3 separate regions of the Homo sapiens genome follow, and regions 1 and 2 are each linked to region 3. Evidence: fine-mapped QTL for protein levels in blood plasma. A gene starts in region 3. Each other region holds a variant in brackets. All regions are shown on one strand. Distances are between the middles of the regions.

Region 1 (5,230 bases), 320 kb after region 3:
GACAGGTTTGGGGATTGGGAAAGTTCAATTTTATTGTACCGCCAATGAAAAGGTGCTATATTTTTTTCTTGAACCTCAAGGGCAGAGGCTGAATTAATCATATTCCTCAGCTCATTCCACATTATCATGGCAAAGCCTCTCTTTTGCTTTATTTATTTATTCTCTTTTATCTTCATACTTAATCTCATTCCATTCTCTGCCATGGGCAACCATTCTAATGTGTTATGTATAATTTTTGTATATATGTATTATTATAAAATGAGGATTCTTGTTTTGAATGTATTTCTTTTTAATTTGTGAAAAATACCATTGTGCCCTGCAATTTCACTCCAAGGTACATACCAAGAGATCCAAAAACTGGGGTGGGCATGGTGGCTCATGCCTATAATCCCAGCACTTTGGGAGGCCAAGGAGGGTGGATCACTTGAGGCCAGGAGTTCGAGACCAGCCTGGCCAACATGGTGAAACTCCGTCTCTACTAAAAATACAAAAATTAGCCAGGCATGGTGGTGGGTGCCTGTAATCCCAGCTACTCAGGAGGCTGAGGCAGGAGAATCGCTTGAACCTGGGAGGCAGAGGTTGCAGTGAGCCGAGATCGTGCCATGGCACTCCAGCCTGAGTGACAAGAGTGAAACCCCATCTCAAAAAAAAAAAAAAACAAAAAAACTTATGTACATAGAAAAATGTGTATATGAATGTTCACAGCAGCACTGTGCATAATAGCCAAAAAGGGAAAACCACTGAAATGTTCATCAGCTGATAAATGGATAAACAAAATACAGCATGGTTGGTCATACAATGGAATGCTGTTTAGCCATTAAAAAGGAATGAAATACCCATACCACGAGATGGCTGAACCTTGAAAACATTTTGCTAAATAAAAGAAGCCAGACATAAAACACCACATATTGTATGATTTCATTTATACAAAATGTCCGGAATAGGCAAATCCACTGGAGAGAGAAAGTAGATGAATAGTTGTCAGGGGTAGGGAGAGGAGAGAATGAGGAGTGACTGCTAATGGGAAATGAGTGGGGAGTGAATATGGGGTTTCTTTTTGGGGCGATGAAATGTTCTGGAATTCAATAGTGGTGGCTGCACAACTTTGTGAATGTACATAACTTTGTGAGTTGTACAAAAAAATATATTAGGCATTCAGGATTATTTAAAATGTTTTAAATGCCATTGTCTCACAGTTTCTTTCATTTTTACCAAGCACTAAGATTCATCTTGAAGAGCCATTATATTGCTATGTGTAGTTACTATTTTTTTTTTTTTTGAGATGGGGTCTCACTCTGTCACCCAGGCTGGAATGCAGTGGTGCGATCTTGGCTCACTGCAACTTCTGCCTCCCAGGTTCAAGCGATTCTCCTGCCTCAGCCTCCTGAGTAGCAGGGTTAGAGGTGCCTGCCCACCCTGCCCAGCTAATTTTTGTATTTTTAGTAGAGACGGGGTTTCACCATGTTGGCCAGACTGGTCCTAAACTCCTGACCTCAGGTGATCCACCCGCCTTGGCTTCCCAAAGTGCTGGGATTACAGGCGTCAGCCACCGTGCCCGGCCTGCTATATGTAAATCTAATTTGTTGCTTGCAAGTATGCATTCCGTACCAGTGTTGCTTTCCATAACCATGTTCCTTTCTAAATCTGCACACACACAAAAGTCATTTCTTTAAGACTTGAAGCCCCAGTCCCGCTTGTCACCTATTTCTTAGTATCAGATCCATGCCTTCGTTTTACCTGTTAAATACATACTAACGAATATAGACTAAAAAGTATCACAACCTAGTTAGTCCCCCACATTTCCAACCCCAGCATGAAATTCTCTGCTGACTGCTAAACTCACATTTCCAACAGTCCTGTGGATATTCTGACATATATGTTCCTTGGGTATCTTAAACTCAATATATCCAAAATTGAAGTCATTAGTTTTACAACTTCTGAACTAGAAGACCAGATAGACGCTCTCATCCAGATCTCTCAGGACAATACTGTTTGCTTAATATCACCCCTGCCCTTACCCCTGTTGCTCTTCTCTCAGTTACTGGGTTCCTCAGTCTTCTGGTTATCTAGGATAGATCCTCAGCACTGCTGGCCATCCTCCCACCCTACTCACACTACCACAATCAATCGCTCAATTACATTGGGTTTTCACTCCAAACTATCCCCTGAAATCTGTCCCCTCCCTTTCATTTCCACTTACTTTGTCTAACTCAGCCCTTTATTACTTCTCACTCAAGGTTCC[G/A]TGACCTATATTCTTTCTCCTACTGACACAAAAATTTTTTCACTACAAAAAGATCAGATCACAGTCACACAACTGACATCATCACAAAATTCAGAGCTGAGAAGGACCTTCACAGTTTAATTATTTTATAAATGAAACTGAGGCCCATGTGACTGCCTTACTCAAAAACTTTTGGTGGTTTTCCACTATCTATGGAAATAAAAGCCAGTCCCCTTATGATAGCACTCAATACTGCTCATGATTTAGCTCCATCTTATCTTCCCAGTCTTAACTACTAGCACACCTGAAAATCCTATACTGCAAAAGGCTATTCGTCATTCCCTGGACATTCTGGCCTCTGTGCTGCTTTTTCTGTGCCTTTGTATATAGTGTTCCCTCCATGCAGGTGGCCTTCCCTCAGCCTCCACTCTGCAAAAAAAAAAAAGCCTACTCTCATCCAAGGCCCAGGTAAATACTTTACCTTCCATGAAGCAAGAATGGCTCCCATTCAACTTTGCAAGCTAAGTTGGCTGCCAGTCCCCATATTGCCACAGCTCTCTGTTTAAACCAGATGTTCTCAATGATGGGCAATTTCCACCCTGCCCCACACATCTGGTAATGTCTGGAGACACTTTTGATTGTCACAACTGGAAGGGGGAGGGTTGTTACTGACATCTGGTATAGGCAAGAGATATCATATGATGCATGGGATAACCCCTGATGACAAAGAATTATCTGACCCAAAATGTCAAGAGTGCCAACGATGAGAAGCCCTGGTTTAGATCAAGTTAAGCACTGCTACAGTCTCCCTGATATCACAAGCTGTCTCCACTGACAGATAAATTATAAGTTTTTAGGGACAGTGTAACTCACATGTCTATTCCTTGTACATAATATTGTCTATTCCTTGCACATAATGGGTGTACATAATAGGTGTACATAATGGCTGTACAAAAAGTGTCTGTGTAGGATGAAACTTCTCCCTCAAAATACATTCTTTACATTCTAGTGGGGTAAGGATTATTAGAAGGCCCAGAATGGAATCATCAGTAAGGGGAAAGGGAATAACATTTATTGAACAATAGATATGTATCAAATACTGTGCTCCAGAATGTAAATGCATTATCATGTTTATCCTCAGCAATGGCAGGAGATACCTAGTATAGTTATAATTGTTAAAATGTATTGAACACTTATGCTGGACAGTTTGCTAAATGCTTTACAAACATGGTATTATTTCATCCTCATAACTTTATGAGGTAGATACTATTATTATTCCTTTTTCACACAGGAGGAAGCTGAGGCTCAGAGAGGTAACCTACTCAAGATAACGCAAGCTAGCAAGTATCTGAACAAATATTTAGAGCCAGGTAGGTTGGTCTAAGTCCAAAGACAGTGTCCTTCCTTCTCAAATACTAGCATTCCTAGCAACTAAATTTCCCTAAAAGGTAAAGTACCTGCTTTGCAGGAAGGACAGAGGTTGAGGTAGGAACTTCATAAGCAATTTGGAGAGAGGCTCCTCCCATATCCAGTATCCCTACTGTCCTTCTCCGTCCTGCTGCCAATTCCTGGGTAGCCTCAGCATCTGATTCTGAAATAAATAAGAGAACAAAAAGGCCCTAGTAATTAAAAAATAAAATTAAGTCAAACCCCCAAAACAGCAATCCCTTGAAAATTTGAAAGCAGGCAGGTGCCATGGCTCACACCTGTAATCCCAAAACACTGGGAGGCCAAGGTGGGAGGATTATGTGAGCCGAGGAGTTCAAGACCAGCCTAGGCAACATAGTGAGACACTCTCATAAAAAAAAAAAATTTTTTTTAATTAGCTGGGCATGGTGGTGCACACCTGTAGTCCCAGCTACTCAGGAGGCTGAGGCCAGAGGATCATTTGTGCCCAAGAGTTTGAGGCTGCAGTGAGCTATTATCGCACCACTAAACTCTAGCCTCAGTGACAGAGAACCTGTCTCAAAATAAAAAAAAGAAAGCAAACAAGTATACTAACTGAATCAACTATATATTACACAAAGAATAATTCTTGTGAATTACTTAAACATGACATTTTGACTACGTATCCCTAGTAGGATATAGCCTAAGGACAAAAGAAACAAATATCTTAAGCTACATCGCAGTAGTCTTGTTAACAATATTGTTGGTTTTATTATTTAAAAATTATGAAGGGAGACTGAGGCAGGCAGATCACAAGGTCAGGAGTTCGAGACCAGCCTGACCAACATGGTGAAACCCTGTCTCTACTAAAACACAAAAATTAGCCGGGCATGGTGCTGCACACCTGTAATCCCAACTACTCAGGGGGCTGAGGCAGGAGAATCGCTTGAACCCGACAGGCGGAGGTTGTAGTGAGCCGAGATTGCACCACTGCACTCCAGCCTGGGTGACAGAGCAAGACTGTCTCAAAAAAAAAAAAAAAATTATGAAACATATTGTGGAATAAAACAAATAAATGTTTATGTCAATATCTTTAGGAACAAAGATTCAGCATAACAGAACAAAAAGGATATAGGTATAAAAATCAAATAAATTAATAGCACCCTATAATCTTACATATGAGTCAGAAATATGACTATGAACTCATTTATTTTTCTCTTTCTAAAAAATACATATTTCCTAGCTGTGTTCACTGAAAGGCCTAGAAGCAATGATATCCCAGGAGTAATGACCACCTGTGGTATCTGGACCAATAATCTCTAAATACCATCTTTTACTAAAAGAAACCAGGGCTCTTTTAAAAACAGGCCAATGCCAGGTCTAGGGTAGAAAGTATACAAGATGACCCTGGAATACATTGCTGTACCAGATAGCAAGGGGAATATAAAAGAGTATTGGGGTCATATTAAAAGGATACAGCAGCCAACCTAAAGATGCTCCTTAAAATACTAATAATGTGATGGGCTCTAATGCATCTAATATATTAAAATCCATGAGTTCATAATAATAATTAAAACTTTTTTTTCACTGGTTACCTTTGGAAGTTGCTAGACACCAACTCAT
Region 2 (5,200 bases), 210 kb before region 3:
TTTGTTGTCTTAAGTTATTTCTTTGGTAGCAAATAAATCTTCACAAGAACCTAATTTTTTTTTTCTGTTGATTTTCTATTTTGGCAGGAACTTGATCTCAAAATAGCAATTAAGTCTTGTCGCCTAGAGCTAAGTACCAAAAACAGAGAACGATGGTGCCATGAAATCCAGATTATGAAGAAGTAAGTGTATTCCTTGACTTACATTTCCCTGGTTCTACAGCCCAACCAGATGTCATCATGGGGAAAGAGGCCAGGAATCCACTCTTCTCAGGATCTTTTTGGGAACATATATTTTTTTCTCTCATTAAATATATTCTATTTCAAATAATAATATCACATTAAGATTAAGAAGGTTTAGTTAAAATCAGCTAGGACACTTACACACTGTTGGTGGGAATGTAAAATTGTGCAACTGTTACGGAAAACAGTACGGTGATTCCTAAAAAATTAAAAATAGAATTACCATATGATCCAGCAATTCCATTTCTGGGTATATACAAAAATGAATTGAAAGCAGGGACTTAAAGAGTAATTTGTACACTCATATTCATAACATTATTATTCACAATAGCTGAAAGGTAAAAGCAACCCAGTATCTACCAGCAGAGACATGTATAAACAAAATGTGGTATATTCATGAAACGGAATATCATGCAGCCTTAAAAAGGAATGAAACTCTGACACATGCCACAGCATGGATGAATCTTGTGGACATTATGCTAAATGAAATAAGCCAGTCACAAAAAGACAAATACTGTGTCATTCCACTTATGTGTGGTACCTAGAGTAGTCAAACTCACAGTGAAAGAAAGTAGAATGGTGTTTGCCAGAGGGTGAAGGGACCAGCAAATAGAGAATAATTTTTAATAGGTGCGGAGTTTCAGCTTTGCAGAATTAAACAGTTTTGTGCAGTATAGTGATAGTAGCAAAACATTGTGAAAGTATTTGATGCCAGGCTGGGCATGTTGGCTCACACTGTAATTCCAACACTTTGAGAGGCTGAGGTGGGTGGATTGCTTGAGCTCAGGAGTTCGAGACCAGCCTGGGCAACATGGCAAAACCCCATCTCTACAAAAAATATAAAAACTAGCTATGTGTGGTGGTGCATGCCCGTAGTCCCAGTTACTTGGGAGGCTGAGGTGGGAAGATTGCTTGAGCCCAGGAGGTCAAGGCTACAGTGAGCTGAGATCATACCACTGTACTCCAGCCTGGGTGACAAGAGCAAGACCCTGTCTGAAAAAAAAGGAAAGCATCTTGATGCCACTAAACTGTACACTTAAAAATGGTTAAGGTGGTAAATTTTATGCTATGTGTGTTTTACCACAATCAAAAAACTATTTCATTTCAGTTAACAAAAGTCAGCTAGGGCCGGGCGTGGTGGCTCACACCTATAATCCCAGCACTTTGGGAGGCCAAGGCGGATGGATTACCTGAGGTCAGGAGTTTGAGACCAGCCCGGTCAACATGGCAAAACCCCATCTCTACTAAAAATACAAAAATTAGCCAGGTGTGGTGGCGGGTGCCTGTAATCCCAGCTACTTGGGAGGCCGAGGGAGGAGAATTGCTTGAACCCGGGAGGCGGAGGTTGCGGTAAGCTGAGATCATACCACTGCACTCCAGCCTGGGCGACTCCGTCTCTAAATAAATAAATAAATAATAAAAAATAAATTACCCCAACATTTAGTGGCTTAAAATAGCAAACATTTAGTATCTTATAGTTTCTGTGACTTAGGAATTTGGGAGTGGCTTAGCTGGGTGATTCTAGCTTAGAGTCTTTCCTGAGACATCTCAGGATATTGGTCGGAGCTGCAGTAATCCAAAGGCTTGACTGGGGCTGGAGTATCTGCTTCCATGCTCACTTATATGAATGTTGGCCAAAAGCATCAGTTCTTCGCCATGTGGGCCTCTTCATGGGGAAGCTTGAATGTTTTCATGACATGGAAGCTAGCTTTCCCCAGAAAGATCTTTTCCTCAGAAAGAGTGAGTGATCTGAGAGAGAGAGAGAGAGAGAGAGAGTGAACGAGCGAGCAAGATGAAAACCGACGTATCTTTTATGATCTTTACTTGGAAGTGAGACTCCATCCTTTTCCACCACATTCTGTTTGTTACAGTGAGTCACTAAGTACAGCCTACATTCAAGGGGAGGAGAGTTAAGCTCTTAAAAAGAGAAGTAGACATATTTTAAAACTTCCACAGGTAGTGTGCTAAGTACTTTACAGATCATTCTTCCAGTTATCACAGCAATCTTATATTTAGGTATTATTTTGCAAATGAGGAAGTTGAAGCTTATAGAATCACATAGCTGGTGGTTGGTAAAGTGTGGATTTGAAATAAATACTTTCTGACTCTAATATCTGTGCTTAATTCCATTTTGATTCTCAAACTTGGTTATGTGGCAGAATCACCAGGAAAGCTTAATAGTATAAATTATCAGGTCCTACATGTACATGGAAATTCTGTTTGCTTCTTTTTCTTTTTTTCTTTTTTTTTTTAAAAGAGATGTGGTCTTGCTATGTTACCCAGGCTTGACTTGAACTCCTGGGCTCAAGCAGTCCTCCCACCTCAGCCTCTGGAGTAGCTGGGACTATAGGCATGCGCCACCACACCCGGCTAATTTTTAATTTTTTGTAGAGATGAGGTCTCACTGTGTTACCCATGCTGATCTCGAACTCCTGGCCTCAAGCAATCCTCCCACCTCAGCCTCCCAAATTGTTGGGATTACAGTTACAACTACACCCAGCCTAGAACGCCAGATTTGACTTACTCACTGTGTGATCTTGTTACTTAGCCAATTTGTGCTTCAATTTTCTCCTGTGTGGTGAAAGTATTAATAAATCTACCTATAATAGGATTATTGTGACAAGTAACTGAGTTAATATATTTAAAATGTTTACTGCTTGGCACTTAGAAATGTAATAGTAGTAATAGTGATGGTATTTTTATGTGTGTTTTCTTTTAAAAAATTACTAATTTTTAATTATACAAATCAGAAATTAGAATATTATAAATAATACTGATCTTTCCCCCTCTGTTCATCCACCCACAATTAAGTAGCATTTCAAATCCAGTCCCTTTTTATTGGAAATAATTTTTTTTATTGTAATGTTTTTCTTTCTTATTAGGTTGAACCATGCCAATGTTGTAAAGGCCTGTGATGTTCCTGAAGAATTGAATATTTTGATTCATGATGTGCCTCTTCTAGCAATGGAATACTGTTCTGGAGGAGATCTCCGAAAGGTAGTGTGGATGTTTTGAGATGAGAGAGAGTAAATCACAAACTTTAGCAATGTTTGAATCATGTTAAATATAATAAACTAGAATAAGAATCGGAAAAACTATGGTCTGCTTCCTGTTTTGTAAATAAAGTTTTATTGGAACACAGCCACATTCATTTCTTTACACATTGTCTATGGCTGCTTTCTTATGGCTGCAGAAGTGAGTAGTTTTAACAGAGACTATGTGACTTGCAAAACCTAAAGTATTTACCATATGGTTCCTTACAGAAAATGTTGACTCCTGATTTAGAAAATGCATTTTTGTTGTTGCTGTTTGATGGGACTATAGCAATGGTGTTAGATGAAAATTTCAGTGGTTAAGGTGCTTATAAAAAGTTGTTTTCTGTATTGCAATCTTTTTTTTCTACCTAATTTTAAATGTGCCCATATGACCATTTTTATATATATCCATGAGATTTGTCAGCCTTTTCCAGTTTCAAATGCTTTTTGCCTCTTTTTACTTTTATGAGCCTTATCATGAAATTTACATGCCCTCAGTATGGATTTGGTAATTTTATTCCCTTGTATTTTATTATGACTTATTTTCTCATTTGAATATTCTTTTAGAGTATAGTAATTAATGTGTGGTCACTATTGCAGCCCAGCAATTTGCAGAACAGATTTTTAGATTTCTTTCTTTTTTTAGCTGCTCAACAAACCAGAAAATTGTTGTGGACTTAAAGAAAGCCAGATACTTTCTTTACTAAGTGATATAGGTACGTATCAGTATTAAAATACCATTGTAATGTAATGTCCCTTTGGCCCATAAAAGATCTTTTTGGGAATTCAGGAGAATTGTTGATACACTATACAAAGTCTATAGAATTTCAACATCTATAAGAAGTTATAAAAATCTATTACTATTGATGCTAAATTAAAACTAGGATATTTTGGCTAGGTGCGGTGGCTCACGCCTGTAATCCCAGCACTTTGGGAGGCCAAGGTAGGCGGATCACAAGGTCAGGAGTTCAAGACCAGCCTGGCCAACATAGTGAAACCCCATCTCTACTAAAAATACAAAAATTAGCTGGGCACAATGCCGCATGCCTGTAGTCCCAGCTACTCGGGAGGCTGAGGCAGGAGAATCGCTTGAACCCAGGAGATAGAGGTTGCAGTGAGCCGAGATTGCACCACTGCACTCCAGCTTGGACAACAGAGTGAGACTTTGTCACACACACACAAAAAGAAACTAGGATATTTTATTATTTATTTGTGGCTAAGAGTCCTTTTTTTGTCTAATAGATGTTCCAATAGCTGACAAAAAAATCATGTGAAATGACCTTACTCAATTTCTCTCCCCCCCTACCATTGACATAGTAATTTTGTTTACAGTGGAATTAC[A/C]TCTCCTTGAGGGATGGGTCCTCAAGTCAACTCTTTTTTGTTTGTTTGTTTTGAGACGGAGTCTAGCTCTGTTGCCCAGGCTGGAGTGCAGTGGTGCGATCTCAGCTTACTGTAACCTCTGCCTCCCAGGTTCAAGCGATTCTCCTGCCTCAGCCTCCCGAGTAGCTGGGATTACAGGTGCCCGCCATCACACCTGGCTAATTTTTGTATTTTTAACAGAGACGGGGTTTCACTGTGTTGGCCAGGCTGGTCTCAAACTCCTGACCTCGTGATCTGCCCGCCTCGGCCTCCCAAAGTGCTGGGATTACAAGCGTGAGCCACCGCACCCAGCCAAGTCAACTCTTCAGGGTGAAAAATCTCTGCTTAATCAGAATGACTCCAGAAAAATTCCTAAAATAACCAGTACCTAACCTTTTGGAGGAACCTCAAAAACCAAAAATTTGTTTCCCCATAGATTTTGGTTTTGCCTCTTTTCCAAGGTCATGAGGGCTAAAGTCCAATTGAAATGAGTGATTTAGGTGGGAGAAAGAGGCTTATAAGAGTTTCAGGGATTTTCCCAATTGCTTGTTGCATTTCTATTTG
Region 3 (5,230 bases):
TGGCCAACAATGTGAAACCTCATCTCTACTAAAAATACAAAAATTAGCTGGACGTGGTGGTGCATGCTTGTAATTTCAGCTACTAGGGAGGCTGAGGCACGAGAATCGCTTCAACTCGGGAGGTGGAGGTTGCAGTGAGCTGAGATTGCACCCCTGCACTCCAGCCTGGGCGGTAGACTAAGACTCCGTCTCAAAAAAAAAAAAAAAAAAAAAAATTACAGTTTAGGGGTCATGCAGCCTCTGACTCCAAGAGCCTGAACCTCCCAAATTGCTCCTGGAATAACATCACTATTTCAAAACCTAAGATCAGTATTTGAGATATTTTGCAGACCCTGCAGTTGATGGATCTGCTGACACCATCCAGACCGGTAATCTGGCTCAACCAGTTCTGCATTGCACCCAGGAGCAGAAAACAGCAAGAAAACCTCATTTTGACCCCCTATGTTTCCATCTCCAACCTGACCAATCAGCACTCCCCACTTCTCAAGACCCCACCAGCCAAATTATCTTTAAAAACTCCACAAGGTCAGGAGATGGAGACAATCCTGGCTAACACGGTGATAGTCCGTTTCTACTACAAAAATACAAAAAAAAAATTAGCCAGGCGTGGTGGCGGGCGCCTGCAGTACCAGCTACTCGGGAGGCTGAGGCAGGAGAATGGCGGGAACCCAGAAGGCGGAGCTTGCAATGAGCCGAGATCACGCCGCTGCACTCAAGCCTGGGAGACGGAGCGAGACTCCGTCTCAAAAAAACAAACAAACAAAAAACTCCGATCCCCAGGCTGGGCGCAGTGGTTCATGCCTGTAATCCCAGTACTTTGGGAGGCCGAGGAGGGTGGATCACCTGAGGTCAGGAGTTCAAGCCCAGCCTGACCAACGTGGCGAAAAAAATAAATAAAACGAAATGCTTGATTTTTCATCTGAATTTCATATGGCATACTTGACTCCAAACAACTTTAGAAAGCTACATCCACAGAAAACAAAATTGTAGGAAACTGAATAATAAGTTATTTTTATTTTGGCTAATAACATTATCCAAAAATAAAGACAATAGATTTGCAATGTTAATTACTTTCTTGAGGAAAGAAAAGTCACTTGTTTTAAAATATTTATTTATTTATTTATTTATTTATTTATTTGAGACGGAGTCTCGCTGTGTCACCACGCTGGAGTGCAGTGGCGCGATCTCAGCTCACTGCAACCTCTACCTCCCGGGTTCAAGCGATTCTCCTGCCTCAGCCTCCCGAGTAGCTGGGACTACAGGCACCCACCACCATGACCAGCTAATTTTTTATTTTTAGTAGAGACAGGGTTTCACCATGTTGACCAGGATGGTCTCGTTCTCTTGACCTCGTGATCCGCCGAAAAGTCACAGTTTTACAGGCAAATGAAGCATTGCTAAGAATTTTAAAGACTCTCCGAACGTTGATATTTTACTACAAAATGTTCTCTTTACAGTGTTAACATGCTTCAAAAAGCAAAGGAAAAAAAAACAGTATGGTGGCTTCTCAAAAAATTAAACACAGAATTACCACATGATCCAGCAATTCTTCTGGATATATACCCAAAAGAATTGAAAGTAGGGACTCAGATATTTGTACACCCATGTTCATTGCAGCATTATTCACCATAGCCTAAAGGTACAAACAACCCAAATGTCCACAGAAAGATGGGATAAACCAAAGATGTTATATACGTACAATTGAGTATTATTCAGCCTTCAAAAGGAAGGATATTCTAACGCATGCTACAACATGGGTGAGCCTTGAAGACATTATGCTAGGTGAAAGAAGCCACTCACAAAAGGACAATATTGTATGATCCCACTTATATGAGGTATCCAGAGTAATCATAGAGACAGAAAGTAGAATGATGGTTACCAGGGGCTGGAGAATGAGGAGTTAGTGTTTAATGGGTACAGTTTCAGTTTGGGAAGATGAAAAAGTTCTGGAGCTGGATGGTGGTGATGGTTGCAGAACAATGTCAATGTACTTAATGCCACTGAACTGTACACTTAAAAAGGATTAAAATGGTAAATTTCATGTGATATATATTTAACCACAAGTTTTTAAAAAGCAAAGGGAAGGAGAAACATATACAGCATGGGATGAGATTTGTGAAATATTTATTTTTGTTGTGCATGCACAGTCATAGACTCGCCGCCTTCTTCAGAATCCTCTAGGTAGATTCCAGAAACGTGAGGCGCAGCAATTCCAGCAACATAGCCAAGCTGTGTAACTTCGTGGTCTTTAAACAAACAACGGGAATACTGCGGGGATTCAGAAACTGAGTCGGAGGAGGAGTTCTGACAGCCCTGCCCAGTTCTTGCTTCTGTCATTTCTTGCTCTCAAATTCTCAAAGATGTCCTGAGAGACTTTCCTCAGAAAAAAATGGGACAGATAGAGGCGAACCCCAGCGAGTATTGTGTGGCATAATAAGGGAAACTGCCTCGGGGTAGCAAAGAGGACAGCATCACACGCAGACAGGAATCGACTTGGACTTCTCTGAATGGAATTTTGACTTTTTTCTAGGTTGGAGGGTGGTGTCGGGAGTGGGGGAACAGCAAGAGTGGAGGAACTTGTCCGCAGCCGGGGCTGCACGTAGGACTGCGTGAGGCCGAGGCCCGACGAGCCGTGTCGGCGCGCTGCGGCGGGGGCGGGCCCCCGTGCCTCAGTTTCCCCGGTGGCCGTTCTGGGAGCGACGCCCCTCTGACGTCGCGAGGCGAGCAGGGCCGGGCCGGCCGCCAGGGGGCGCGAGCGCGGGGCGGGCGCCGGAGAGGTGGGCGCGCGGGCAGCGGAGCTTGGCGCCCCCGGGGCCGCGCGGACCGCGCCGGCAGAGGCGGAAGCCTGAGCGGGAGGCGGGGCGGCGCGCTGACTCACACGGGATCGACCCGCCCGCCGCTTCCAGGGGCGGAGGTGACAGCGGGCTGGGGACTGGCGGCTGCAACTGCCTGCCGCGCCGAGGGACCGCCGGGCGGCGGAAAGCAGGTCAGAGGCCGGGCCAGGCCGGAGCCGGGCGGGGGCCGGGCGGGGAGCGGGGGTCGCGGTCCGGGGCCGCGGGCGGAGGGGACCCGCACCCCGAGAGACGCGCCGCGCCGCGCCGCGCGGCTAGGCCTGTATCGGCCCTTTCCCAGCGGCGGCGCTGTGCTGCGCTCTGTGGGCCAGGAGCCCGCGAGGGACAGTGGGGCGCAGCGGGCCCCCTCGCACTCCTGTAGTCCCCGGGAGTTGGAGGGGTGGTCAGAGCAATGCGAACGTGGGCTTTTCAAGCGGTGTCAAGCCCAGGGCTCTTTCTCTGCACCGCCCTGCCACTCCGGCAATGAGGCGGAATTTTGAGAGCTGGAAAAAGAATTCTGCGTTAGTCCACCCCGCTGATTTTACAGATGTTCGGAGCCTTACGGCATAGGAGGCCGTGATTCTGTGTCAGGGAGACAGGGACAGATGGCTTCCGAAGCAAGGGTTAGACCTGTTCAGCTGGAGATGCAGCTTTGGTCATGGTGGAGTTTTGCAGAAACCCGCGGACACCCGCGTTCCTGCTGCAGGCACAGATGTCCACCGGGCATCTGTGTCTCAAAGGGTGGTGATGCTGTCACTTTAGTAAAGGAATATTGAGGTTACCAAACAGGCCGGGGCCTGATGCAGATGAGGAGTATAGACTTAAATTTTAAGTGCAAAAACAACTTTAAATGCAGTCTCATTATTACTGCCTGTCTCATTTGTACTGTAATGAAGGGTGAATATTTTTGGCACTCACTTATTCTGGAATATGGGTAACTTGCCTTTAGGTCTGTTTTATAGTAATTCTTTTACACAAACATGAAGATCTTGTATTAAAACACTTTCATAACTAATGATGCTGTAGTATGTGGCAGGCGAGTGGTAACGCTAATATTTAGGGTTTGAGCATAGTCTAGCTCTGCTTGTTTACATAGCTGAGTTAAACGGATGAGCAGGACTGATTAATCTGTAGTAGTTTTTGCAAGACTGAAGTACCTGACAGCATTCGGGGATCATTTCTCAGTTGGTGTTCCGTTTATTACTTTCACAGCATGAATACCGACACGGTGATCAGCAAGTTAGTTTATCCTCTACCCATTTTTCTCTAAAATATTGAATTAAAGGATCTCTAAGGTCCTCTTCTGTCTCGAGTTCTCCGATTTTACATGTTAACTTGAAACACGTCACTCATTGTGATAATAAAAATGTTTTAAGAAGAAAAGATTTTTAGAATTCTGCATAATGGGGCATAGCGAATCTTCAAATTCATTATTCTCAGCTCTCTCAGTCACTTTATCAGGGTTGGGCTAAAATAAGTGAAAAGTGACTTTTCAAATTGCAGATACTTACGTGTTAAATTCACTTAAATTCAGAGGCTGCAATGGAGTGATTTCTGGAGGGTGGAGAGTAGCTCAAGTCTGGCTTGGGAACGGGGTTCGTGCAGTGCACTGATAACTTTTGCAATAAGCCAAGAACAGTCTGACTCAGAGAATGTGATAAATTGACTTTTATACAGTGTTCATATTGTGTATTTTTTGGCTGAGATAATAATAATCTTCATAAACGATCTGTTTAAATATGCACCAGTTATTTATTTGTCTTGCAGCCCCAAGGCAGGGCATTTCCCTCAACGTTCCATCAATCTCTTCCTCTTTTCTGGCTCCTGACTTCAGGTGATCCGCCTGCCTCAGCCTCCCAAAATGCTGGGATTACAGGCGTGAGCCACCGAGCCTGGCTTTTGGCTTATTTTCTAGGTTTAGTATTCTGTTGTTTCTAGAGTCAGCTAATGGATTACCTACAACATGGTATTATTACGAGATTATCTCCTGTGAAATTCTCGAATGTGCTTGATCATCTGCCAAAGCATCCTTAGAATTCATTCAGAATACTTCTGGAAAGTTTTGCAACACCAATTCAATTAATATGAAATAGTTTCTTATTATACACACTCTGGAAAACATCTGAATAAGCTAATTTTCAAGATTGGTTAACTTAGTCTTGTTGGTCAGGAGTTAATTATGAGTTATTAGTTTCTTGCCTGGAAAGGCAGAAAGTTCTTAAGTAGCAGCAGTAAAATGAGCTCTTTAATGAAAGAGCCGTTAAACCAAGATGTTAACTTTTAGTTGTGTTCTTTATCCTCCCTGCTATGAAAGGCAGCTGTGGGAGGTGAAATAGAGTAGCTAAAATGTATTATTTCATTTTTAGATTTCTAGATCTTTTCTTCTGACTGAAGGACGT

Alleles and levels. Alleles are on the strand shown, and positions count from the first base shown. The strength of an association depends on the size of the effect and on how common the allele is.
For the plasma level of the protein whose gene starts at base 2,877 in region 3, allele A in region 1 goes with a lower level than allele G (moderate association).
For the plasma level of the protein whose gene starts at base 2,877 in region 3, A is the high allele of the variant in region 2 and C is the other (moderate association).

What was found. PIP is the chance, under the fine-mapping model, that this variant and not a neighbour inherited with it causes the effect. The UK Biobank Pharma Proteomics Project read protein levels with antibody pairs (Olink). The fine-mapping took linkage between variants from a reference panel, not from the people measured, so its PIPs are less certain.
Region 1: its variant is fine-mapped to the plasma level of the DNMBP protein (UK Biobank, PIP above 0.99).
Region 2: its variant is fine-mapped to the plasma level of the DNMBP protein (UK Biobank, PIP above 0.99).

What each region holds. Positions count from the first base shown.
Region 1 is chr10:99,689,967-99,695,196 of GRCh38, reverse strand. It overlaps ENTPD7 (ectonucleoside triphosphate diphosphohydrolase 7), which reads right to left. Exons shown (of 13, transcript NM_020354.5): 8 at 3,679-3,812. It also overlaps a transcript of COX15 not described here. Among named protein-coding and RNA genes, the nearest start is that of ENTPD7, 33 kb to the right of the region's middle. The variant G/A (reference allele first, on the strand shown) is at 2,243.
Region 2 is chr10:100,220,905-100,226,104 of GRCh38, reverse strand. CHUK (component of inhibitor of nuclear factor kappa B kinase complex) reads left to right here. Exons shown (of 21, transcript NM_001278.5): 2 at 88-182; 3 at 3,125-3,239; 4 at 3,924-3,993. Among named protein-coding and RNA genes, the nearest start is that of CHUK, 6.1 kb to the left of the region's middle. The variant A/C (reference allele first, on the strand shown) is at 4,619.
Region 3 is chr10:100,007,594-100,012,823 of GRCh38, reverse strand. DNMBP (dynamin binding protein) reads left to right here and starts at 2,877. Exons shown (of 17, transcript NM_015221.4): 1 at 2,877-2,986. RefSeq lists a silencer at 2,585-3,104.